2 separate regions of the Homo sapiens genome follow, and region 2 is linked to region 1. The links come from fine-mapping of genetic effects on gene expression. A gene starts in region 1. The other region holds a variant in brackets. All regions are shown on one strand. Distances are from middle to middle. Region 1 holds the start of ARSK (arylsulfatase family member K). Region 2 holds the start of GPR150 (G protein-coupled receptor 150).

Region 1 (12,482 bases):
TCCTTGATTAGATTTATTTTAAGTATTTCATCCATTCTGATGTTACTTTAAATGGAACTGTTTTCTTAATTTGACTATAAGTGTGTTAATCAATTAAGTATATAAAATACAATTTATTTTTGTACACTGATCTGGTATACAGCCTTACTAATTTATTAGTTCAATAGTTTTGTAGTGGAGCCGTAGAATCCTACATACAAGATTACTGCAAGTATAGATACTTTTACTTCTTCCTTTCCAATGTGAATGCCTTTTATTTAATCTTTTTTCTAATTCTGTGGCTAGAACCCCCAGTACAATGCTGTATAGCAGTGGTGAGAACACACATCCTTGTCTTCTTCCTGATCTTAGTCAGAAAACTGATTTTTTTTTTCTTTTAACCATTCAGTGTAAAGTTCTGGCTTTTTTTGTAGATGCCTTTTAGTTCCCTTCTATTTCTAGCCAGTTGAATGCATAAGGATTGTCAAATCTTCTCAAATGCTTTTTCTGCATCTATTGAGATGATCACATGGGTTTTGTCCTTTATTCAGTCAACATGATGTATTACATTAATTGATTTTCAGATATTAAACTCACTGTACATTTTGGGGACAAATTCCACTTGGTAATGGTGAATAATCCTTCTTACATACTAATGAATTTGGTTTCCTAGTACATTTGTCCCTTGGTATCTGCAGGGGATTGTTTCCAGGACCTCCCAAGGATACCAAATCTTTGCGGGCTCAAGTCCCACAGTCAGCCCTGTGGAACCCATGGATAGGAAAAGTCAAGTTCTGTGAGTTCCACATCCCATAAATACCATATATTTTTATCTGAGATTGGTGGAATCTGCGGATTCAGAACCTGTGAATATGGAGGGCCAAATCCATTTTGTTGAGGATCTTTGCTCTTATATTCCTAAGGGATACTGGTCTGTGGGTTTCTTTCCTTGTGATGTATTCGTGGCTTTGGAATCAGGCATGAACTGTTTTTTTGTTTTTGTTTTTTGAGATGGAGTCTTGCTCTTTTGTCCATGCTGGAGTGCAATGGCACGTCTCGGCTCACTGCAACCTCTGCCTCCTGGGTTCAAGCAATTCTCCCTGCCTCAGCCTCCCGAGTAGCTGGGATTACAGGTGCCTGCCACCACGCCTGGCTAATTTTTGTATTTTTAGTAGAGACAGGGTTTCGCCATGTTGGCCAGGCTGGTCTCGAACTCCTGATCTCAGGTGATCCACCCACCTCGGTCTCCCAAAGTGCTGGGATTACAGGTGTGAGCCACCGCGCCCGGCCAAACTGGTCTTATAGTTTGGAAGTGTTCTCTCCTAATTTTTGGAAGAGTAGATGAAGAATTAGTATTAATTATTCTTTAAGTATTTGGTAGAATTTATCAGTGAAACCGTTTGGGTCTGTGCTTCTCTTTGTTGGTAGTTTTAAAATTACCAGTTTACCCTCTTTACTTCTTATAGGTCTATTCAGATTGCCTATTTCTTCTTGAGTCAGTTTCAGTAGTTTCTGCCTTCCTAGCAATTTGTCCATTTCATTTATCTAATTTGATGACATACAGTTGTTGTATGTAAGTATTCCCTTGTAATTCTTTTATTTCTTAAGATAATGTAACCATTCTCTTTCATGATTTTAGTCATCTAGCTCTTTTGTCTTTTTTCTTGTTCAGTATAGCTAAGGTTTGTCAATTTTGCTGATTTTGTCTAAGAACCAATTTTTGGTCTCATTGATTTTCTCTACTATTTTTCCATCCTCTGTTTCTTTAATTTCTGCCCTAATCCTTATTATTTCCTCCATTCTGCTTGCTTTGCAGAAGCTTGTTTGGTCTTCTCAGCTTGTCTCTCCTGGTATGGAACCTCTGTCCTACTAGAGAGCTAGGGCCAGGGCAATTAGGGCCCTAGGATTCTCAACTTTCCGCACTTGGCATAAAGCCTCTGTCCTGTAAGTGGGGGCTGACTGAAGTAAGGGAGCCCTCAACTTCTCAGCTGCATTCATTAGGAATTTAACCTCTCCAACTTGGATTAGGAGAAGATGAGAAATCTCACAGCCTGTCCCTTTTGGTGAGATACCATAACTGGTGATTGGGAGCCGAGGGGGAGTAGTCCTATCTTCTTGGCCACACCCACCTGAGTGAAACCTCTGTCAAAACTATAGTTCACTGCCACAGACCCTTCTTGCTATTCTTACCAAGTTTTCATAGATTTTCTTGAATAAATGTTTCTTCATTTGGTGTATGACCTTAGGACAGTTTCCAGACACTTTAAGTGTTTCAAATATTTAATAGTTTTTATGTATAGTTTAAAAAAGAGTTTTCATTTGGTTTGCTTGTTTTCTTGGGAGTTGATCTACAAAGCTCTTGCGTTGTTATCCTGAAAGTAAAACCAATTTGCTATTTTCTTCCTACAATTATTATCCAGCTTAACTGCTCTATCTTAGCCTGCAGAGTTTTAGAAATGATAAATCACAGTGTCAAGAATCTAACAGCATACCAAACTGGTATAATCATAGAGAGAGGAATTATTTTAAGTTTAAAGACCAACATTTTTACTATATAGTTGAATATACCTAAAACAAAAACTTCAAAGAAACTGTAAGCTGCACTCAGGACTAGCATTATTTCTAGTAATATTACAGTCTTATTTTCAAACACATTGATATATACATATTATATGTTTGGATAAAGCAAATAAGTAATTGCATTAATGCATTTAGACCAAAATATTTGGCATAAAACAAAAAAGATATAAGTATAAAAATCAAAGAATAAACTTGTAATCTTAAATTTGAATGGAAAGTATCAGTATGATCTCACAATTTATTTTTCTCATTCTAAAATATTATATACTTTCTAGATTTGTCCACTGGAAAGGTCTAGATGCAATGAACACCCTAACACTCAGACTGTGGTCTCTAAATACAAGATGGGACAGGAAATATGTATTGTGGACATGGAACTCTGTTAAAGCAAGCTGTCAAATACTAATGGGGATGGGTCAAAAGGACTCAGAACCACCTGAAGGGGCTTCCACTGGCCAAAGATAGGACAGTTTGAATATTAACAAGTATGTGAATGCAAAAATTTTTTTTATTTTTTATTTTTTAAAAATTTTTTTATTTTTATTTTTATTTTTTTTTCGAGACGGACTCTCGCTCCGTCGCCCAGGCTGGAGTGCAGTGGTGCGATATCAGGTCACTGCAAGCTCCGCCTCCCAGGTTCACGCCATTCTCCTGCTTCAGCCTCCCGAGTAGCTGGGACTACAGGCGCCCGAAACCACGCCCGGCTAATTTTTTTGTATTTTTAGTAGAGACGGGGTTTCACTGTGTTAGCCAGGATGGTCTTGATCTCTTGACCTCGTGATCCGCCCACCTCGGCCTCCCAAAGTGCTGGGATTACAGGCGTGAGCCACCGCGCCCGGCCGTGAATGCAAAAAATTTAAGCACAAATATAGAAAAATCTATGCATTCATACTACACTAAAAAAAATAACAAACCTATATATCTCAGTCATCTTTGGAAGTTTCTGGGATGTTGTGATCCACATTCGGATTCCCTTTTAGGAATGAACAATTGCCTCTGCTGAAGACAGCTGCTTTGCCCAACACCATGCCCCATTCTAGGAGCAGCCCACAACCAGTGGCCATCCAACATGCAGGTGGAAAGGTCTGTTCTCCTCACTCCTATTGGAAAGCAGCTCTGAAGCACCATACTAGTTTGAGAACTGTCATTCATAAGATGGCAACAAAATTCAGCTTCTCCTCTGCACAATCCTGCTTCCTTCATTTGCCTTTGATTACAAGAGCACTCTGTAATAAAATGCCATCTAGTCAATTTCCAGTACTGCCCATTCTCTAAGTTTAAATCACAAAGATAACTTTAAGTAATATTTTCAAAAAATCCCATGGGCACATCCAGACTATGTAATTTTAATCATCAGGAATCTACGAGAAAGGAAATACAACATATGATTACAAACACTCTTTAGTGCCAGATATGCTTAACACCAACATCTGTGTGACCACAGTAACACCGAGTGATAATAAACTAATATTACAATTAATAACCAAACAATTGTCTAAGCAGCACTTTTTAAAACATGGATCATCCTAAAAGCATCGCGTAAGGTTGACAGTAGCACCTTTGGCTTGGGAAAGTTTCAAAAACTGTTTAAGTTTGGGATTCAGCCACATTACCAACACACACACATACACACAATTTCTCTGGAATACGGGGGAGTGAATCAAGTTATACCAACGATTCCATTTGAATCAGCACTAACAGGATTATCACAGACCTGGGTAATAAAAATAAACTTTCTTCACTTCTCACCCAAACATGAATTCCTGCAAACTTGAGGTGAACTGGAAAATGACTTTTGGAAAGCTAACACGCTTTTATGGAGATGCAGAATGTTATTTTACCACACAATTAAACCAAACGGGGGTATGGACTGAAAGTTCATTAGTCGTGGTAAAATAATTTAGCGAATCGAGGTCAGTATTAAAAAAAAAAGATCTGCAAAGATGTTTTCAGTGTTTCACTATTGTTTTACATGTTTGCATAGGTATGTGGTGTACGTGTGAGTACACGGGGCCTCACATAAAATGTATTTCTTTCTTTGCATCGGGGTAAAAGGTGTTTGAAAATGTCTCAGGTTCTGCTCCCCAAAGCCTGCAGCACAGGCGGCGGCGGTGAGGTCGCCGATCCCCAGCGGGGCGCCCCTCCCCTGCCTCGCGGTACTTACGAAGGAGTCGCTCACGACCAGCACCACATTGGGCGCTTTGGCTGCTCTCCGCCTCTGCTCCCCTGCTCCGGGGGCCAGTACCGCCAGCGCCAAGGCTGCGACCACCGACACCCACAGCAGTAGCATCGCCGGTAGCGGTTCTGAGAGCCTGCCGCCGGGCCAGCCGCCTCCCTCTGGCGTTCTCTCCCTAGCAGAGCAGGGCAGGGACAGCGAACAACTCCCAAAGCTTGCAGTTTGGTTGCTTGATAGTAACGCCGAGCTTCACCCGCAGAACTACAACTCCTATCAGGCGGAGAGCGCGCACATGCGCAACAGAGAAATTCCCGCTTTTACCCACGTTAAGACCTTTTAATCAAATACCGAGCAAATCAGAACCCAGCCACTTCCAGTCACGTGAATGAGTCCTGGGAAAGGCGCATGCGCTCTCATTGCAGCCTCGGCGTTTGTAGAAGAGGAGCATCTGCTCCAGGTGGGTTTGGATTTCTGTCGGTTTTGCACAAGGGATCCTAAAGGCGATTGAAATGGTACTTAGAGAAAGAAAGGATCGGGGCCGGGGCTGTTCATTTTGGGCCGCGCAAGCGTGGCTGAGTGTTCGGCGAGAGCGTGAACTGGGCGGCGATGAGGTGGCGGCGCGGCTGTCACTTAAGTTGAATAGGGCGGTGCCTTGTGGGGCCTCTGGGTGGACCGCCTCAGGTGCGCCGTGAATGCCTTAGACCCCCCCGAATACCTTCCCAGGGAAATCTCTAGCCTGTCTCATCTTATTGCTTCTCTTACCCCGTGCAGTCAGGATTTACTGTGCTCCCATGGGGCGAGGAGCGGGGCCTAGTAAGAAGTTTCAGGCTGTAGGCAGGGGAAAGCATAGCTGTTCCTTGCCTTCAGAGAGCAAAGGAGATAAGCGAAACTGGAGGGGGAAATGGGCTGTGTGACATGTTCAGTTAGTTGACGTAGGTTCAGAATATCATTGTTTTGCTGCAGAATAAAAACCGGTCTCTTTTGACTGTTGAATTCCTTTGGAGAGTTCTGGAAGAAGCAGATTTCTGTCCCAAAGCCAAATTCCAATTTCTGTATCTAGTTTCGGGTATATAATTTGCACATCACACTAGTAGTTTTAATATTCTGACAGTTAAAAGAGGAGTTATACTACTTACTTAAGTCAACTGAATACTAATATCTGGCAGGTTTTTTTTTGCCTAAGATAATTGTAGTAAGGAACAGATTTGTTTATTTAATACTCACATGGCACTTAGGTGCTGAGCGTTATACTAAGCATTTACTGAGCATCTGCTGCGTGCCACGTACTTTTATATGGAATATTTTCTATAATCCTCACTTTCACCATATTGCAGATAGGAAAACAGGCTTAGAGAGGTTAAATGACTGGCCTGAGTTTACACAGGGAGCCAGTCAGAGCACGACTGAAAATTGAAGAGTCTGTGCCGTAACTCACTAAATGCTCTGTCTGCAGTTAGTTTATCTGTTAGTGTAGCAGAATTGTTACTCAAGCAGCATGATAAAGATCTGCGGGAGCATGCAAAAACGTAAACAGTGTTGGGCGCGGTGGCTCACGCCTGTAATCCCAGCACTTTGGGAAGCCGAGACGGGCGGATCACCGAAGGTTAGGGGTTCGAGACCAGCCTGGCCAGCATGGTGAAACCCCGTCTCTACGAAAAATACGCAAAATACTGGGCGTGGTGGCGGGCGCCTGTAATCCCAGCTACTAGGGAGGCTGAGGCAGGAGAATCACTTGAACCCAGGAGGTGGAGGTTGCAGTGAGCTGAGATCGCACCTTTGCACTCCGCCTGGGCAACAAGAGCAAAACTCCATCTCAAAAAAAAAACAAAAACAAAAAAACCCCTAAACAATAGTCTCAGTTTACATGAGTTTAGATTTCAGGGAAGCAAAACCAAGCATACATGAAATAATAATACAGCACGGAAGGTAATACAAGTGGGCTCTCTCATAAAAACAAATTTGTTTTGAGTTAATTTGGAATGTAGAACGTATTTTCTACCATAGTGACAATATTGACTGACATTTAAATTCATAAAAGTTATATTTAATTTTGTGTCTGATTCCATAAACTGTGCTTACTCTCTACAGCCTTGTTTCCACAGGACATGTACTCTGATGACAGGCTTACAAGAATACATCTTTTTCTTCTTTCTCCCCTTGGCAGTGTCAATAGGAGCAGGTGCTGCAGTGATTTGGAGCAAGACAGATATTTTAGAGCCTTAGAGACGTTGTGCTGGAAGAATCTAAGAGGCTTCTAGTCCTACTTCCCATCTGACATTCAGTTTATCCTAAAACATTCCTGCTGAGTGGATTGTCCAGCCTGTGCTTTTTCATCTCCAGTGATGGGAAACACTTCCATTGAGTACCTCATTCCACATTTATATAGGTCTCATTAAAAGTTCCTATTTTAAGTTGAAGTTAATCTTCCTCTATTTTTAACCATTCATTAGTGCATTTTTCTTCACTTTTACATGGATAATCTCTCCCTTTCAACAGTCCTTCCCCCAACTCCCTCGCCACCATTTATTTATTTTTCCTAGTCCCCAGTTTCTTCAGCTAGTTCTCATAATTTCAGGTTTCCTCATTGTTTTGATTACTCTTTTGTGAACGTACAACATTTTTGCTAATCAGTAATTCTATGCTATCAGAAAAGGTACTCAAGAGAATGTAACCATTTGCCTCACTGCCTACTTCCCTCCCGCCATTTTTCACTCCTGCATGCTCTCCTCTAGAATACTGAGTTCCGAAAGCCCTCTTTGGAAAGTGTGGGTCACAGATGCTTCTGTGGCTTGTTTTTCCCCAGGCGTGTGCTCAAAGTGTGGCTCAATAAACATCTACTGATTGAGACACTTCCCTCAGTCACTCATTTTTTTGTTAACACTGGTAAGCCTTGGAAGCTGGAAGATCATTAGCTATTTATTGAATATGTATTATCCAGTAAGTGTTGGGTATATAAGAAGCTCTGAAAATATAAGACTTACGTCTAAGAATTTATTGAATTGGGAGACATAATTGAATTATGTCTATATAGGATAATAAAAATAATATTTGTTAAGTTGCAGTTGAGTAGCTCAGTTTGGAGGTTTGGAGGAGGGAGTGATCCCTGTTGTAGGCTGTACTCTAGTATTCATGTAGTGTAGTAACTAATATGAAGAGGGTACTCATGTTTGATGATAGCTGTCTTGAGGAATACAGATGCTTCTTATGGTGGGTTACACCATGATAAACCCATTTTAACTTGAAAATATTGTACGTCAAAATGCATTTAATATGCTGATAAGCCCATCGTAAAGTCAAAAAATTGTAAGTTCAACCATTTGTAAGTCAGGGGCCGTTTGTATAGGTAAGAAGTTTACTTCTTGAGAGAGCAAGGAAGAAGGAGGTTGCAGGACGGTTGGGGATTTGAATGTGTAGGGAAAATTTTTAACACTGAGTTATCACACTAGTTGTTTTAGGAATGGCAAGTAGCAAAGTTGATTGAGAGAATAATAGTAGATAGGACATTATTAGTATAGATTATGTCCAAGTACTCCATCTATGTGTGTATCAGGTAAGTGATGTAATTCTTACTTTACCAGTGAGGAAATGGGCTTTGAGTAATGAAGTCATGTACCCAAGGCCTAATGGCTTTGATCCTAGATCCATTTGATTTCCTAAGCTCACTCTCAACTAGGGTAAGCCTTGGTGGGTGGATATGACAGAGTAAAGGGGCTGACAGGATCTAGGGTACTTTGTAAGAACAGAGTTGAAGTGACTGAGTGATAAAACTAGATTGGGTGAGGAGGGCAGCCAAGTGTTAGCAGGGCTAAAGAAGCCAGTGAAATAGTCAAGTTTGTACTTTTTTTTCTTTTTTAACTATTATCTTACTTTCCTAAACATTGTTTGGATTACCATACTTTCTTTTCTTACCAGTAAGACTTTCTACTGTTGGAGTGACACTTCTATTTCGGTAGATCACTAATGAGTGTTTTGGTTAGGGAAACTTTTCATTCCTTGTTCATCCCTACCTGCCTCACCTAAACATTGTTTACTTCCTAGTTCTGAAGTAGCATGTTTTTTTTCACTTTATTCAGTTTTTCAAAACCACTTCCATTCTCTGCAGGGACCATTCTAGATTGTTTTTTGTTTGACAGAAGCCACTTCAGGGATGCTATCAAAATATCCTTAGAATTTGTAGATGTGTAGTTGTGTTACTATTTTTAATGACTATTTAAATGCATTGTTAACATTAAAAAAATTTCTCTGTTTTCATTAGATTACAAACTAATATAATTGTATTATATTATACTCCTTATGTTCCTTAGAGAAAAGTTCTATTCTAATATAATTAGGCTGCAAATTGGGTGTAAATAAGTACCCTTAGTTGTCTGTAGATGTCCTTGATTCAAAGCAAAAATGGCACAGAAATAGTAGATATTCTTCTTTGGCTCTATTTTTTTATATTGACATCAGTGTATTTTGGGTTTCTGAAATGGTTTCTCAAAATCCTTCTGATCTCTTGTAGAAGTTTCCTTTTATCATCTGAGGCCCAGGAATATAGTTTAGACCAATTCAGAAGTTTGGAGATTAAGAATAGTGTCTCTCTGGGAAAGAATAAAAATACTAAAAATTATACATAATTATTTCTCATGTTTTAAATTATGAATTATGAAAATTGATGCGTTAAAAAGTTTAGAAGGTTTTGGGTTGTGGGTGTCATCCTTTTTATATGATTGTCTCATACTTGTTTTTGTTTAATTTAGATGGAAAATGGGTAAGGAACAATCAAATTCAATTCGGGAAGAATATAGAGGTGGTAATAATTGGTAAAAGGTAAGTGTCTACAATGCTAAATAATAAATTGGAATCTATTTTTACTTAATGATTGTTTTTACTCATTCCTTTCAGAAGAAAGATTTAATGGCATAGTTTTTTTTTTTTTTTTAATGTCAGACTATGGGTCATTACAAAATACCTTTTGTTATTAGATTTAAAGATATCGTTTTTTTTCCTTTCTGTAATTAGCTTCCGTTGTCATTATCATTACTATTTATTATTATTGTTGTTTTAGCTTTGTGGAATCTTTGTATGAGCATATTGGAATATTATTTAAGGTTTCATAGCCTCAACTGGGGACATATATATCATACCTATATATGTTGTCCTTGAGGAATATCATTGCCTTTATGGCATGACTGTCACTTTCTAACTCTTTTTAAGTGCAGTTGTTGCCACTTTTTATTCTTGATTTATGTTGGATAAAAATATTTTGGGTTGGTAGTAGAAAAACTTGAGTGAAAACGTACAAAATGAATACTCTTATTTAAAAAAAGACAGTTGAGATTGAGGAGAATAGTGGGAGGAGAGGTATAAGGCGGAAAGAATTAATAGGGAGTTATATTGTGGAAGAATATTAAAGACATCTCCCTCTCTTGCAAGAGAGCTAGATGTTTCTTTGACGTGTTAGAAATCCTTACAATGAAGGGAAATATCCAAAATAGAGGAGTATGGGGTTACGTGGAATCATTTTGGGTAGTAGGTTTTTACCCTCGGAAGGAAAATGGGTTTAAGTGGTACCTAGTAGATGGTTGGATCTCAATAAGGGTTTGTTTAGAAAATTGGTGAATGGACGTTTCCCTTTCCCCTCAAAAATAAAAATAAAAATTAAAAAAAAAGGAAGTAGTAGTTTTTAGGGTTGAAAAGGGGCAGATTATTTTGTCTTTTTACAAATTAAACTTCTGAAACTTACGTACATATATGTGTGTATGCATGAGTGAGAGAGGACCTCAGTGCTAGCGTATTGTGTTAAATGTTGCATCAAATGAAGAAGGAATTGGAAGAGAATAGAGGGTTCCATTGTAGCATGAAGAATTGTAATTACATATGGAGACATACAGATACTGAAGGACATTTAATATTAGAATTGATTACCAAGAGAAAAATGGTGTTTGTTTCTATATAGTGGTCTTTAAAAACAACCTACTTAAAAATTACTAATGGCTTCCTATTTGCTGCTGTATTTAACTTCACACTTGTCTGTTTGACTTTCAGGATCTGTAATCTGAGGCTCTATTTACCTACCCAACCTAATTTTCTTCTGTTTAATAAGTCCCTTCTGATCCATTCAGCCTGGCTTTCTCACTGTTTCCTATACTTGCCACAACTCATTCCCACTTCTGTCACTTTGCTAATGCATTTGCCTCTGAGTAGAGCAATTTTCCTTCTTCACTCCATTTTTAAGTCTTGTCATCTTCTATTAATAGAAGCCATTAATAACATCACACCACACACCTTTCCTTCTCTAAATTCCTATTGCACTTCCACTCATTACCCTTAGTTTAGCATTTGATTATTGAATGACTTATATGTCTTAAGTCTTTCTCTTGATTTAGATTATATTCTTTATATATTTTTTATATCGTGCACAGCAAATAGCTTGGGGGCTGCATGTAGTTTAGTAGTGGTTGGTCCTGCCTTGTTTGTATACATACCCTCATGAATGTTGGGTGATAGAAGAGATGGTGAACTTCCTCCTTATGTAATGGTTGTGGTCTTTTGTTTGTTTTTAATTTGAGACTGTTTTTGTTCCTTTTCAATTTGGACATCTTTTGATTTTTTTACTTGAGTGTCTCTTTTTGTCTCTTTTTATTGATCTAGATCAGTTGTCATCATCCTTGATGTTATTTTCTTCTTTTTAGTCTGCAGGGTTTTTTTTAACCAAAGGAAACTGGTTTGAGAAAATTGTGAAATCAGCATTGAAATTTGTTACCTACTCCAATCAAGATTTGCAAACTACAAAAAAATCATTCTGAAGCTTTCACCTATAAATATATACCAAGATAATTTCAGATAAGGTAGTAGTTTCTAAAGCAAGAACATATGAAATATGGTGCTTTAAATTATATAATTATTGTAACTAGGCAAAAAAGTTACTTATCTGCCTATTTAGGGAATCTGGTTCTAGCTGTAGATAAATTGATTTTATGGTATCTTAATTTTTCTATTATTTTGAATCCTAACATTTTTTAAGTCAAAAAGATTAAAAAATATGTATCTAACTTCTCAAACTTCTTTGGTCTCATACTTCTGTGTTAGCTTCTTCTTTGGATATAAAGGACTGTCAGTGTACCATGTCAGTGATTCATCTTTTTGGTACATTTTACTCCCTTGAGCATCTGAAGCCTATAAATACTTAATATTTACCCCAGCTTTGTTTTACCTTTCTATGAGATTAGAGGAGCTGACAGAAAATACAAATATTTCTTTTTTTCAACATTGAATTATGATTGAATTAGACTTGTTTATAGGTAAGCCAGAATAAGTTGTGTAATCTTAAAATATGCTAATTTATTTAAAATTAATATATCTTAAGACTAAATGAAGAAATACTTTCTCTACTAATTAAAATATCTTTTTATGGCTGAAATTAGTATACAACCCTTTTGCATTATCCATTGCTTCCATTCAAGTTTAAACATTGTTTTTCTTTAGAAAAAGTACAGGTAATAAACCTACAGTAATCCTTATTGTGAAGAAAGTTAATATCTTGATTTATGTTTCACAGAAACTAGCATTAAAACAATGCTTTCTTAAACTTTCATATCACAGTCACTGAAATTATTTGTGTTAGTGTTTTATCTGTGACTTGGGCTTATTCTACTGGATCTAGCTTTGTATAGAGTGGGAGAGTTGGATTGAGATTGGTATGTGTTTTGAGTCCTGATCAACAAGATCATTTGTATTTTAGCCAAAATATATAGAGAATGAA
Region 2 (12,482 bases), 71 kb before region 1:
AGAGTCAGTTGGAGGCTATGCCCAGCTGGGATGGCTGAGTGGTTAGGCCTCTGTTTCCACATGGTCTTCATAGCATGACAATGTCACATCAGCTTTTCTGAAAGGGCAAGCTGTCATGTATAAATGTTTATTGAGTTCCTACTTGTGAAACATCTGTACACAATGCCCCATTGGCCAAAGAAGGTCACATGACCAAATTCAGACTACGTGTGAGGAAAGATTACCCAAGAGTGGGTATTAGGAGGAGTTATTCATTGGGGGCCATTACTGTAATAATCTACCTAATATGGTTTGGATCTGTGCCCCCACCAAATCTCACATTGAATTATATTCCCCAGTGTTGAAGGTGGGGCCTTGTGGGAGGTGATCGGATCATGGAGGTGGAGTTCTTATGAATGGTTTAAAGCCATCCCCCTTGGTATTGTATAGTGTGTGATTTCTCACAAGATCTAGTTGTTTAAGTGTGCAGCACCTCCCCACTCTCTCTCTTGCTCCGGCTCCAGCCATGTAAAATGTGACTGCTTCTCCTTCACCTCCTGCCATGATTGTAAGTTTCCTGAGGCCTCCCCAGAAAAGAAGTCACTGTGCTCCCTGTACAGCCTGCAGAACCATAAGCCAATTAAACCTCTTTTCTTTATAAACTACCCAGTCTCAGGTATTTCTTTTCTTTTTTTTGAGACGGAGTTTTGCTCTTGTTGCCCAGGCTGGAGTGCAACGGCACAATCTCTGCTCACTGCAACCTCTGCCTTCTGGGTTCAAGCAATTCTTCTGCCTCAGCCTCCCAAGTAGCTGAGATTACAGGCATGTGCCACCACGCCCGGCTAATTTTGTATTTTAGTAGAGTTGGGGTTTCTCTATGTTGGTCAGGCTGGTCTCAAACTCCCGACCTCAGGTGATCCGCCCACCTCGGCTTCCCAAAGTGCTGGGATTATAGGTGTGAGCCACCATGCCCGGCCTCAGGTGTTTCTTTATAGCAGTGCAAGAATGGACTAGTACAGAAAATTGGTATCATGAGTCGGGGATTGCTATAAAGATACCTGAAAATGTGGAAACAGCTTTGGAACTGGGTAATGGGCAGAGATTGAAACAGTTTGGAGGGCTCAGAAGAAGACAGGAAGATGAAGGAAAATTTGGAACTTCCTAGTGACTTTTGTGACCAAAGTGCTGATAGTAATATGGACAATGAAGTCCAGGCTGAAGAGACCTCAGATGGAAATGAGGAACCTATTGGGAACTGGAGCAAAGGTTACTTTTGTTATGCTTTAGCAAAAAACTTGGAGGCATTGTGCCCCTTCCCGATGGAGCAGTGAAACTTCTAACTTGAGAGTAATGATTTAGGGTATCTAGTGGAAGAAATTTCTAAGCAGCTTAGAAATGTGACCTTGCTGCTTTTAACAACCTGTGCTTATATGTATGAGCAAATAAATGACCTGAAACTGGACCTTATATTCAAAAGGGAAGCAGAGTGTAAAAGTTTGGAGAATTTGTAGCCTGGCCATGTGATAGAAAAGAAAAGCCCATTTTCAGGGGAGGAATTCAAGCAGCCTGCAGAAATTTGCATAACTAAAAGGAAGGCAAGTGCTGATAGCCAAGACAATAGGGGAAAGGCCTCAAAGGCATTTCAGATCTTGTGGCAGCCCTTCCCATTACAGGCCCAGAGGCCGAGGAGGACTGAATGAATTCCTGGGCCAGGTTCAGGGTCCCCCTGCCCTGCACAGCCTAAGGACACTACTCCCTGCATCCCAGCTGCCCCAGCTCTAGTCATGGCTAAAAGGGGCCCAGACACAGCTCAGGCTGCTGCTTCAGAGGGTGCAAGCTGTAAGCCTTGGTGGCTTCCACATGGTATTAACCCTGTGAGTGCACAGAATGCAAGAGTTGAGGCTTGGGAGCCTCTGCCTAGATTTCAGACCGTGTATGGAGAAGCCTGGATGTCCAAGAAGAAACCTGCTGCAGGGGCAGAGCCCTTACTGAGAACCTCTACTAAGGAAGTACAGAGGGGAAATGTGGGGTTGGAGCCTCCACGCAGTCCCCAGTGGGGCACTGCTAATGGAGCTTTGAGAAGAGGGCCACCATCCTCCAGACCCCAGGATGGTAAAGCAACTGACTGCTTGTACTCTGTGCCCAGAGAAGCCACAGACACTCAATGCCAGCCCTTAAGAACAGCTGCAGGGGCTGAATCCTGAAAAGCCACAGAGGCAGAGCTGCCCAAGGCCTTGGGAGCCCATCCCTGGCATCAATGTGCTCTGGATGTGGGACATGGAGTCAGTCAAAGGAGATTATTTTGGAGCTTTAAGATGTAATGACAGCCCTGCTGGGTTTTGGACTTGCATGGGGCTTGTAGCCCCTTTCTTTTGGCTGATCTCTCCCTTTTGGAAGGGAAATATTTACCCAGTGCTTTTACCACTATTGTATCTTGCTAGTAATTAACTCGTTTTTGATTTTATAGGCTCATAGGAAGAAGGAACTTGCCTTATCTCAGATGAAACTTTGGACTTCTGAGTTAATGCTTGAATGAGTTAAAACTTTGGGGGACTGTTGGGAAGGCATGATTATATTTTGCAATGTGAGAATGACATAAGATTTGGAGGGGCGAGAGGTGGAATGATATGGTTTGGATCTGTGTTCCCACCAAATCTCATGTTGAATTGTATTTCCCAATGTTGAAGGTAGGGCCTGCTGCGAGGTTATTGGACCATGGGGGCAGAGTTCTCATGAATGGTTTAGTACCATCCCCCATTGGTACTGTGTAGTGAATGAGTTCTCATGAGATCTGGTTGTTTAAAAGTGTGCAGCACCTCCCCTACTCTCTCTCTTGCTCGTGCTCCAGTCATGTAAGATGTGCCTACTTCTCCTTTGCCTTCCTCCACGATTGTAAGTTTCATGAGGTCTCCCCAGGAGCAGATTGTAAGTTTCCTGTGGTCTCCCCACTGTGCTCCCTGTACAGCCTGTAGAACTGTGAGCCAATTAAACCTCTTTCTTTATAAATTACCAAGCTTCAGGTATTTCTTTACAGTGGTAAGAGAATGAACTAATACACTACCCCATCACATTTTATTATTGTCACTTTCCAATCTGGCCATGGAAAAGGGCAGCATAATAGCAATAGTTGGTCCTAAGTTTTCACTCAAAAGCTACTTTTAAATGAAACATGTATCTGTGATAAGTGATATATATCTATGTATGTAATAAAGGTCATATAGTGCTTTGCATAGAATGAATCTTTATAAGTATCAAATAATTGAATGAGTTAATTAATAAAATTAGCAATAGAAAGAGTTTGCAAATAATATTCTGTAACATTAATAATTGTAGGTTGAAGCCAGGCACAGTGGCTCACACTTGCAATCCCAGGTACTCAGGAGGCTGAGGTTGAAGCATTGCCTGAGCCCAGGAGTTCAAGACTGAAGTGTTATGTGATTGCCCCACCACACTCCAGCCTGAGTGACAGAGTGAGACCCTGTCTCTAAAAATAAAAATAATAATAACTGTAGGTTGAGGTTTCTCAACAAAATGCTTATCATAAAAATTATGGTTCTTTGTAGAATACATAGCTTTTAAAATGTGAGAGTTGTAACGGATTTTCTCGGATTTGTCCCATTGTGCCCAATGCAATGTCCAATGCAGTGCCTCAGTACATACTGGTTGATGGACTAAATAAAAGTATACTTGGAATATTCCTATTTTTTGATAAAGAACATAAGCCATTATGCAATAGGCTAAAATGGGACTCTCTTTTTCTTGCCAAACTTCTACTTCAGTTAGAGATTGCTTTGTGCTACAAATAACAAAAAATTCAACTCAACTGCTTTAAGCAATAAGAAATTGTATTGGCTTATTTCCTAGGACATCCAATAGCCAGGCCTCAGTAGCGTTTGGTCTTGTCAGCACAGTGAGTTCATTAAGGACCTAAGTTCTTTTCATCTCTCCACTTTGCCATATCCACAATGTTGACTTACTCTTGTGGCTGGCTTCCCTCTTGGTGAGAAGTGGCTGCCAGCAGCCATTAGGGTTACATGCTCCCTCATTTACCTTTAGTGTGAACAGACATTGAACATGCTAACTTCTATGGCTTTCCCAGAAGAGTTAAAAGATTCCTTCCTAGATTCCCTAAAAAACTTCCCTCACTCTCATTGCATCCCATGACCATTCCTGAGCGAGATATGGTGGCGAGAGGGATGAGAAATTACTCCAGTGGCATGGACTAATCAAGTCACAGTCTTGGAGTTGGAGAGCACCGAGGTTTCCTCAAAGTGCTGACTTTTTATAAAAGGTATAGACATTCTAATAAGAATCTGAGAACTGTCAGAAAAGGAGAAATAAATGCTAGGAAGGCAATGAACAATGCCCACTACTCCTTCTGTAAGGCCCAACTCCCTACTTTTAAGTACTACCATTGCTGCATTAATTTTCCATGACAATTCTCCAAGATCTATTGCTTTCCTTCATGTAATATTATTCAATTGGATTTTTATCCCTCATAGCCAGTATTAGAAAATAACATTAGCTATCATGTATTGAGGGAATCTGAAGAAACAAACCTAGATTCCCCTTACCTCCACCCAATCAAATATTTTGCGTACATTATCCTATGAAGGACATAGTATTAACTCCTATTTTCTTGATGAGAAAACCAAGACTCAAAAATATTCAGCAAACCGCCTGAAGTCACACAGCTACTAACTGTACAGATGAAAGTCAAGTTCAGGTCTTTAGACTCTGAATATTCTACTCTTTTCATAATATTATATTGCCTCCCAACTCAGCAAAATATATTTTAATTTAAGAAGAACAATTCATTTTTATTAGAATATTTTCCCTTTGATCAAGTCAGAACATTTTTAGGAATAGAAGGCAAACTCCTCAAATTTTCTAACATCTTCTGTGTTTCTTAGGACATACCTTAGAAAAAAATGCTTTAAATCTGTCTTCCACAAGATAAGCCAGACTATTCTATTTTTTGAATATTGTTTATAACTAATCACTAGTGTGGTTTATTACTCCTGGATGTTTTCTGCATTCTTTGCATTTCAAATTACAACATAAGTCACATTTACTTATTTTGGCCTTATGTTACTGAGGTTTTTCTTTAAGATGTAGAATTCTTTGCATTTAGTCTTTAAAGTTCTATAAAATCAGGACCACCACATTGCTCAGTTCTGCTGGTGATGTTCACATCTTCATCAATATGAAAAGTGCTCCCTGAAGTCCTGTGTGCAGTAGTTTGGTTAAAATCTAACTCCAAAAAATGTAGAGAATAGAGGAATGGTTTGTCTCTATTTTATAGGGCAACTTTGATTTCTTCCAAACTGCAAGTGTGTAGATCTGGTTTCTCTTCTAGTCGTTTCCTATTTGGGTGATAACCTAGAAAAGAGAGCAATTTCGGGGTCAACCTGTGTATTTGCCTTTGCTGTGTGATGTGAATATTATGTTCTACTCTAGCAAGAGTCTAAATCTGAATAACCTTCAGGGGCCTCCTTGACTAGGACACAGCTGAATCTCTGTGTTGCCTCTAGAAATGCAGATTAGGGTCAACACAAATAGGATGGCCATCCTGAGGAAATATCTCAAATTTCCTAACCTACAAATGCCTCCAGGGATGGGAACCAAGTCATCTAGTTATGTATTCAAGTTTCAGATATGGTTAAAATTAGAGGAAATTCCTTGCTTAAAGAAGAGAAGCATTTCCGTATAAATTGGGCTTAACTAAATCTACAAAATCTAGGAAAACATCAGTTTAATCGGATTTCAAATTAACTTCTTGAGTTGGTATTCTATATTTCCAACCCAGATGAAGAATTCTCAAAATTTCTAGGTAACAATGAGCTGAATACCCCTGTTGTATTGTAAAAACCAATCTAGATAACACTTTTGCAATAGTTTAAAAGTTTTATTCTTGCCTTTTTAACTAGCATTTCCTCTTCTTTCTTTACTGTAGAGCCTCAGTTTTTTCATCCCTCCCTCAATACAATTCATATGCTCAGTTCCATGTTCAAGCCAATCATGGTGGCCCCATTTCTCTTGCAATGATAGGTCTAAATATGGACATGTGATATAGTTCTGGCAAATGAGCCATTTAGGAGAGTCTACTGGGGACTTCTGAGACATGTTGTTTCATTTCTATAAAGGGTACAAAAAAGAGAAATCCTTCTTCTTCTGGACATTGTTACATTTGAATGTGATGCCTGGAATTGCAGCAGCCATTTTGTGACCTCAAGGGGAACTGGCCTGAGTGTCAAGTCCACCACTCAAGATGGCAGACTGGAAAGAGGAAAAGGATCTGAGCCCTTGTATGAGTGAGGCTGCTCCAGAAAAACAGAACCAATAGCATTTATATAGATATATAAGAGGAGATGTATTACGGGAATTGGCTCACGTGACCATGAAGGCCCAAAAGTCCTACCATATACTGTCTGCAAGCTGGAGAACCAGGAAAGCTGGTGGTAAAATTTAGTCTGAGTCTGAAGGCCTGAGAATGGGGGCTGTGGGGGTTTGTGCTGCTGGTATAAATCCTGGAGTTTGAAGGCCCAAGAACAGAAGTGAACTGTCCAAGGACAAGAGAAGATGGGTGTCGCAGCCCAAGAAGAGAGAGAGAGGATTCACATTTCCTTTGTCTTTTTGTTCTATTTGGGTGGGCCCTCAACAGATGGGATGATGCTTGCCACCTCTGGTGAGGATTGATCTTCTTCACTCAGTCTACGATTTGAATGTTAATTTCTTCTGGAAACACCCTCACAGGCACACCCAGAAATGATGTTTTACCAGCTATCTGAGCATCCCTTAACCCAGTCAAGTTGACACAT[A/G]AAATTAACCGTCACAGCCCTTGATTATGAAGTTGAGCTACTTACTTAACCAACCCTGGCACAGCCCTACCACCAGACTTCTTGTCATGTGAAATAATAAGTTGAAGCCAGCTGAGTAAGCTTTTCTGTTAGGGTAGTCTTAACTGCAGAAAACAGAAAACCTGTCTCAGCTGCTTTAAATTTATTATCTCTCTTGAGCGCATTCGAAGTGGTCCAACATTAGGAATCGTATTCTGAAGACTCTCTGAGATTCTGCCTTGATTTCTCATCTAAGAATTCCCCCCTACCCTTCCATTTGGTGATCCTTCATGCCATCATTGAGATGACCTTTCTAAAATTGAAATTGGGTCAAATTATAACTGATTAAATTCTTCAAAGGCTACTTTTTGCTTTCTTGGCTTGGCACACAGACCTGTCTTCACTGGGGCCAGGCTGAATTTCTCTGACCACGTATCTCATTAGGTCAGGCCCCAAAGGCACCCTAAAGCTATTGTCATTACTTGACTATGCTATGTTCTGTCTCTTCTATGCTTTGCAGTGCTATTCCCGTTGCCTAGAACACCTTTCCTGACCTGAAGGGTCACCCCCAAACCAGCCTTCAAGAGCTTCTTTTGGTGAGTCTTTCCTAATGTCCCCTCATAGTCCCCCAAGATTGTCAGATTCTCCTCTTCAGTTCTTCTGGCACCCTGACTGAATTCCCCTGTTATAACACAGGTGACACTGCAGTGTAATTGTCAGATTGTTTCCTACATTTGACTATAACGTCTTTGAGGGAAAAATGTGACTTATTCATCTCAGCATCTCCAATGCCTAGCTTATTAACTGGCACAAAATAAGCAGGTAATAAATGTTTATTAATGAATAAATAATGGTATAATCTAGACTTGGGTTCATGAAGACAACTGTATCCTCTCTTTGGCTGATTTATTCCTGGTATTTTGCAGACCATTGCATCCTCAACAGGGTAAGGAGGAACAAAGAGAGGAAGGAAAAGCTACAACTCTGGAACATCTGCTGTCAAAATTTTGGAGGAAGGTAAAGAAAGCTTAGTAAAGATTTTCTTTCGTATATCTTTTATTTGTTCTATCTCTAACTCACATGATGAATTGTTCAACAAATATATATTGAGAGCCTACTACATGTCAAGCATTGTTTAAGCATTTGGAATATATTAGTGAACAAAACAGCCCTCAGCATTGGCTCTACAAAGAGCTTTAAACAATCATTTCCCCTTTCTGCATCTTAGGTCTGCATTTGTGCATGAACAAGAAACACTATAATGGAAAGCTTTAGATCCTCATACAAAAATCACTGATAAACCCATGGATATATTGTTCATAAGTGCTGCCACTTCTGTCTAGAACCAAGAACAGTTGAGAGGAAGAGGTTACTGATCAAATCCGCTCTTGACCTTGTTCTCAGCTATCCACACCAACAGGCATTGAATTCATTTTTTTAACAAGGGAGTTTTATATACACATGCAGCATTCTGAGGTTTTGACTTCCTTCCTAGCTGCAAATCTCTTTGAGGCTCCATCTGGGACACTGAGCCCCACCCATATGCACCACCTTGAAGCTTCCTTTCTCTGGTTTGCTGGGGACTTTGTACGGAGAGGCTCCATCTGGGCATAGCATTACACCTTTAGAGGCTGCTGGGGGCACAGGGACGATTTCCAACAGAAACCAAGTATATTTGAAAGACACCAAGTCAAGCTTTTGTTTCCTTCCTACAACCTCAGCTTCTGTTGAAGTGGAAACTAGACTGGAAATAAAGGCCACGCTGATTTTCTTCTGAGAAAATACATTACTATGTTAAAAAAAAAAAAGTCCCAATTGCTCCGTGGGAAAGGTTTTTATTTTATAAATACTCTGTGGCTCTGAAATGACAGCATGATTACATTTCTGACAGCACTGGTATAATTCTCAGACTCCCCAGGGAGAGCAACGTGGGGATTTTCCTCCTGGAAAGAAAAGGCAAACTTGCAGGTGCTGAAGGTACATTTGATTTAAGCACGATTCAAAATAAGTAAATACAGATGATAACACAGCAAATACTGAAAGTTGGGTAATCAGCAAAAATAAATGGCATTATCCAGAGCACTATAAATGCGTGAAAGAAAACTGCAAAAATAACTGTTTTTGTTTTTACAACTTTCCAGTGGCTCACTGTCTCCAAATGGGGAGATATGAGAGGAACTGTAGGGAAGAAGAGAAACTGGAAGAGCATAGGGAAATGTAAACATGAGAAGGGAATAGGAGAGTGGAGGAAGGGGACAACTTCAGTGTCACTCTCTCACAGACTCTCCTGCCCCTTGTGATCTGGACAGACCCTGGCAGGCCTCGAGTTCCCTGGAGGTTGCGCCTTAGCGACAGATGACCCGTCTCTGACCACCAAGCACCTAGAAGGCACTTTCGCAGGAGCAAGGCAGGGGTCTGGGGCGCGGAGGGGGTGGGCGCAAGCCGCCCTCGTCCAGCGGTTCCCGCCGAGCATGGTGATAATGAGGGTGGGGCCAGCGTTGGCGGTAGAGCGCCTGGTGGCCCCGGGGCCCCTCCTCGTCCTCCGCGCCTCCCTGCGGCGCGCAGCACAGAGAGCCCAGCCGCTTCCGCAGCTGTCGCCGGAGCCGGCAGTCGCCCGCCTGGAAGAAGAGGTAGACGAAGGGATTGAGAGCGCTGTTGGCCATCGCCACCACGCGCAGCGCCGCCGACAGGCCCTCTCCCTCCCAGTCTCCCGCGGGCCCGGACGACCACGCGGCCGCCAGCCGGGCGGCAAAGTAGGGCAGCTCGCAGCCCACGAACAGCAGCGCCAGCAGCAGGCTCATCTTCAGGCTCTGCACCTTGGCGCGGGGCAGCGCGCTGGGCGCAGGGGCTCGACCTGGGCTCGCCGACCAGGGCGCTGCAGCCGCGGGGGCCTGCGGCCGGTGCCGCCACCAGACGGAGAGTAGGTGGCCGCAAGCGACGCCCAGGACCGTAACAGGCGCGACGAAGCCCGCGACGGCCTCGTAGAACGCGTAGACCTGCAGGTGCCAGCGCGGCAGGGGCGCGAAGATCCCGTGGCAGCGACGCTCCCCCGGCCAGGCGCGGGCGGCCGGGGGCGCGCCTGGCTGCAGGGACGTTGGCGGCGGCGGCGGCGGCAGCGGCGAGGGGGAGTCCCCGCGCACCACGAAGGCCGGGGGCAGCGCCAGCAGCAGTGCCAGCAGCCAGCCCAGGGCGGCGAGGGCACGCGCGGGCAGCGGCCGGCCGTGCGGAAGACGCACCGCGCGCCGGCGCTCGAGGGCGATGAGCACCACGAGGTGGGCCGAGGCGCCCCGCCCGGATGCCTGCAGCAGCTGCAGGAAGCGGCACGCCAGGTCCCCCGTGGCCGCGCGGGGCTCGCCCAGCAGTTCCCAGGCCAGCTGTGACAGCGCCGTGCCCCCGCACGCGTACAGGTCCGCCAGGGCCAGCTGCACCAGCAGGAAGTCCATCTTGCGACGCTTGGGGCCCGCCCAGGGCCCGCCGCCGCCGCACAGGCGGCACAGCACTGTGGTGTTGCCTGCCACCGCCACCACCAGGATGACCCCCAGGAACACCAGGCGGACGCGGCGGCTGGGCGGCCCAGAGGCAGGGGCTCCTTGCCCCAAGGTCAGGTTGAGACCCCAGCCCAGCAAGATGGGCACGGAAATGTTGGGCGCCGGCGGCAGAATTGAGGGGCTAAAGAGATCCTCCATCCTTGTCCCGGAGGAAGAGGAGGCACCGAAGAGGGCGGGCAGGACGCGGGAAACCAAAGTGGAGGCGAGGCGGCGCGGGGAGCGACGCTGGGTCTATACGAGTTCCCAAAGTTAGTTGAAAAGGCACACGCACAGAGAGGGAGATGGATTCGGGCGGCTTTGCGCTTAGTTGTTTTTGTCGATTGTCCTCGTGATTTGTCACTCAAATGTGGGTTGTACACTCGAGGAACACACATGATTCCTATTCTCCACCTTCCCCGCGTCTTCCCTCCCATTCCCGGCGGGTACTCTTCCAATCTCTGCAGCGGCCCCCGACGCTACCCTCGCGGAAGCCGCGGACCCCTGGGCGCTGAGAACCTCATCCATTCTCTATTTACGTGTAAAGCACAGCAGGACAGAATGTCGCTTTGCTTGGCCATTGTATACGGCCAGTGTTATGCCAGCACCCACACAAGAGAGGACCTCTTGACTGAGATTGTACCACACGCCCCCACCACCCCAATGTGATTGCCAGTAGGAAAAAAATAGAAAAGACATTAGTTTTTATTTTAAAGGTTTGAAATGCCATGGATCTGCACGAGCATGAGAAAAACAGGAACACAAGAAACCTAACAGCGTTTTGAGCAAAGAGGAGACCTATTAGCTGAATTTTGATCAAGATGTGTCTTCTCTGTCCAAGAATGAAAGTATTTTAATTAGAGGGTACTAAAGTCAATGATGTTGCTTTTAGGAGTGGCAGTGTTGCAGATCGTTCCAAATACTAGGAGCAGTGGGTCACAGCTGCTTTCTTGGTGATGTAAAATTCATTTCATTAGTCTGAAGAGGGCATTAATAGGTTTTATGCAAATGGTAGTGCATTTATTGCTTTTCTCCTAATATTTTCATCCAGTGAAGGATGCGTCATCACACTCCTCATTCTCTTGATTCTGTTTTCCAGCAGATGGGAAGTTGCTAGGAGGGGCTACGCCTCCAATAAGCCTAGAGAAAAGGTGACTAAGAAAGTGATAAGGCGGCCAATTTTTTTAAAAAAGAAATCCAAGTCACAGGAAATGGTTTAGATTAAATGTTGCTGCTTTCATTTTAGCCTTGTCTCCTCACAAACACATTTTAGTTTCCCTGTTGGAAGCATCCATTTGTCTTTTTATGCACCCTCCACGTTAATCATGGTGAAAGTAGAATTTCCTGTACTTCCTGGCCTGGGGGCCAGGGAGGTATGAGTGTTGTCTAGGGTTCACATTCCCAATCTGAGGAAACATTTGGAACTTTAAGATTCATGGCCTAGGAAGATTTGGTGGGTTCCATGATAGTCCTGCCAGCTGCTGTAGGAATCCCATTTCCCAAGCTGTTGTCCTTTGGCCAGAAACCTTGGTTATTTTCATCATCATCTCTGTGGTGCCTCGCTCTGGTCTGACAGGTTGTAGTTATCAGTGGGTATGTGTTGAGTTGATGAATTAGTGGATATACGATGCTTTTCAGATACCTTCGAGCATAAATGCCTGCCTTGACTATAAATCCATCACCTAAGAAAAAATTCCTTTTATACTATGCCAGTATTGTCCAGAGGAGCCCAAGGAAGCTCTGTGGAGACATAGGAATAAGTGTTCCTGGTGGGACATTTAAGAAAGCTAGAGTGATAGCCTTGGAAAATCTAAAATCCTGGTTTGATTTTCATACTCTCCCTTTAGAACTTTTTATCCAAGGCCTTTTTCTATGCACACACATCATCCCAGTTTATAATGCACTTCTTCCAGGGAGCCTTCTCTGAGCAATGTTCATCATTCAGTGATTTTCCTAGCCAGTATCATTTCAGTGTTTCTCAAGATAGTCTATCATTTGTCTCAAATTTGTTGAAATGCTCTTATATATTAGCATTTCAAAATGACTATAGTGAAATTTCACAGAACTTTAGTAAGATCTGATAAAACATTGATTTTCAACAAATTCTTTTTTTTTTTTTTTTTTCCCTTTTTGAGACAGG

The links. PIP is the estimated chance that this variant, and not a neighbour inherited with it, causes the effect.
Region 2: its variant is fine-mapped to the expression of ARSK in sun-exposed skin (GTEx, PIP 0.97).

The regions. Positions count from the first base shown.
Region 1 is chr5:95,547,646-95,560,127 of GRCh38, reverse strand. It overlaps ARSK (arylsulfatase family member K), which reads right to left and starts at 5,027. Exons shown (of 8, transcript NM_198150.3): 1 at 4,724-5,027. The coding sequence starts at 4,849. SKIC3 (SKI3 subunit of superkiller complex) reads left to right here and starts at 5,151. Exons shown (of 43, transcript NM_014639.4): 1 at 5,151-5,192; 2 at 9,478-9,547; 3 at 11,413-11,568.
Region 2 is chr5:95,618,298-95,630,779 of GRCh38, reverse strand. GPR150 (G protein-coupled receptor 150) reads right to left here and starts at 10,693. Exons shown (of 1, transcript NM_199243.3): 1 at 8,638-10,693. The coding sequence starts at 10,504. The coding sequence ends at 9,200. LOC112267933 (a long non-coding RNA gene) reads left to right here. Exons shown (of 3, transcript XR_002956221.2): 2 at 7,339-7,414; 3 at 7,745-7,927. RefSeq lists silencers at 9,063-9,122, 9,343-9,792, 9,501-9,795, 9,813-9,862, 9,953-10,352 and enhancers at 8,826-9,325, 10,522-11,137. The variant A/G (reference allele first, on the strand shown) is at 6,801.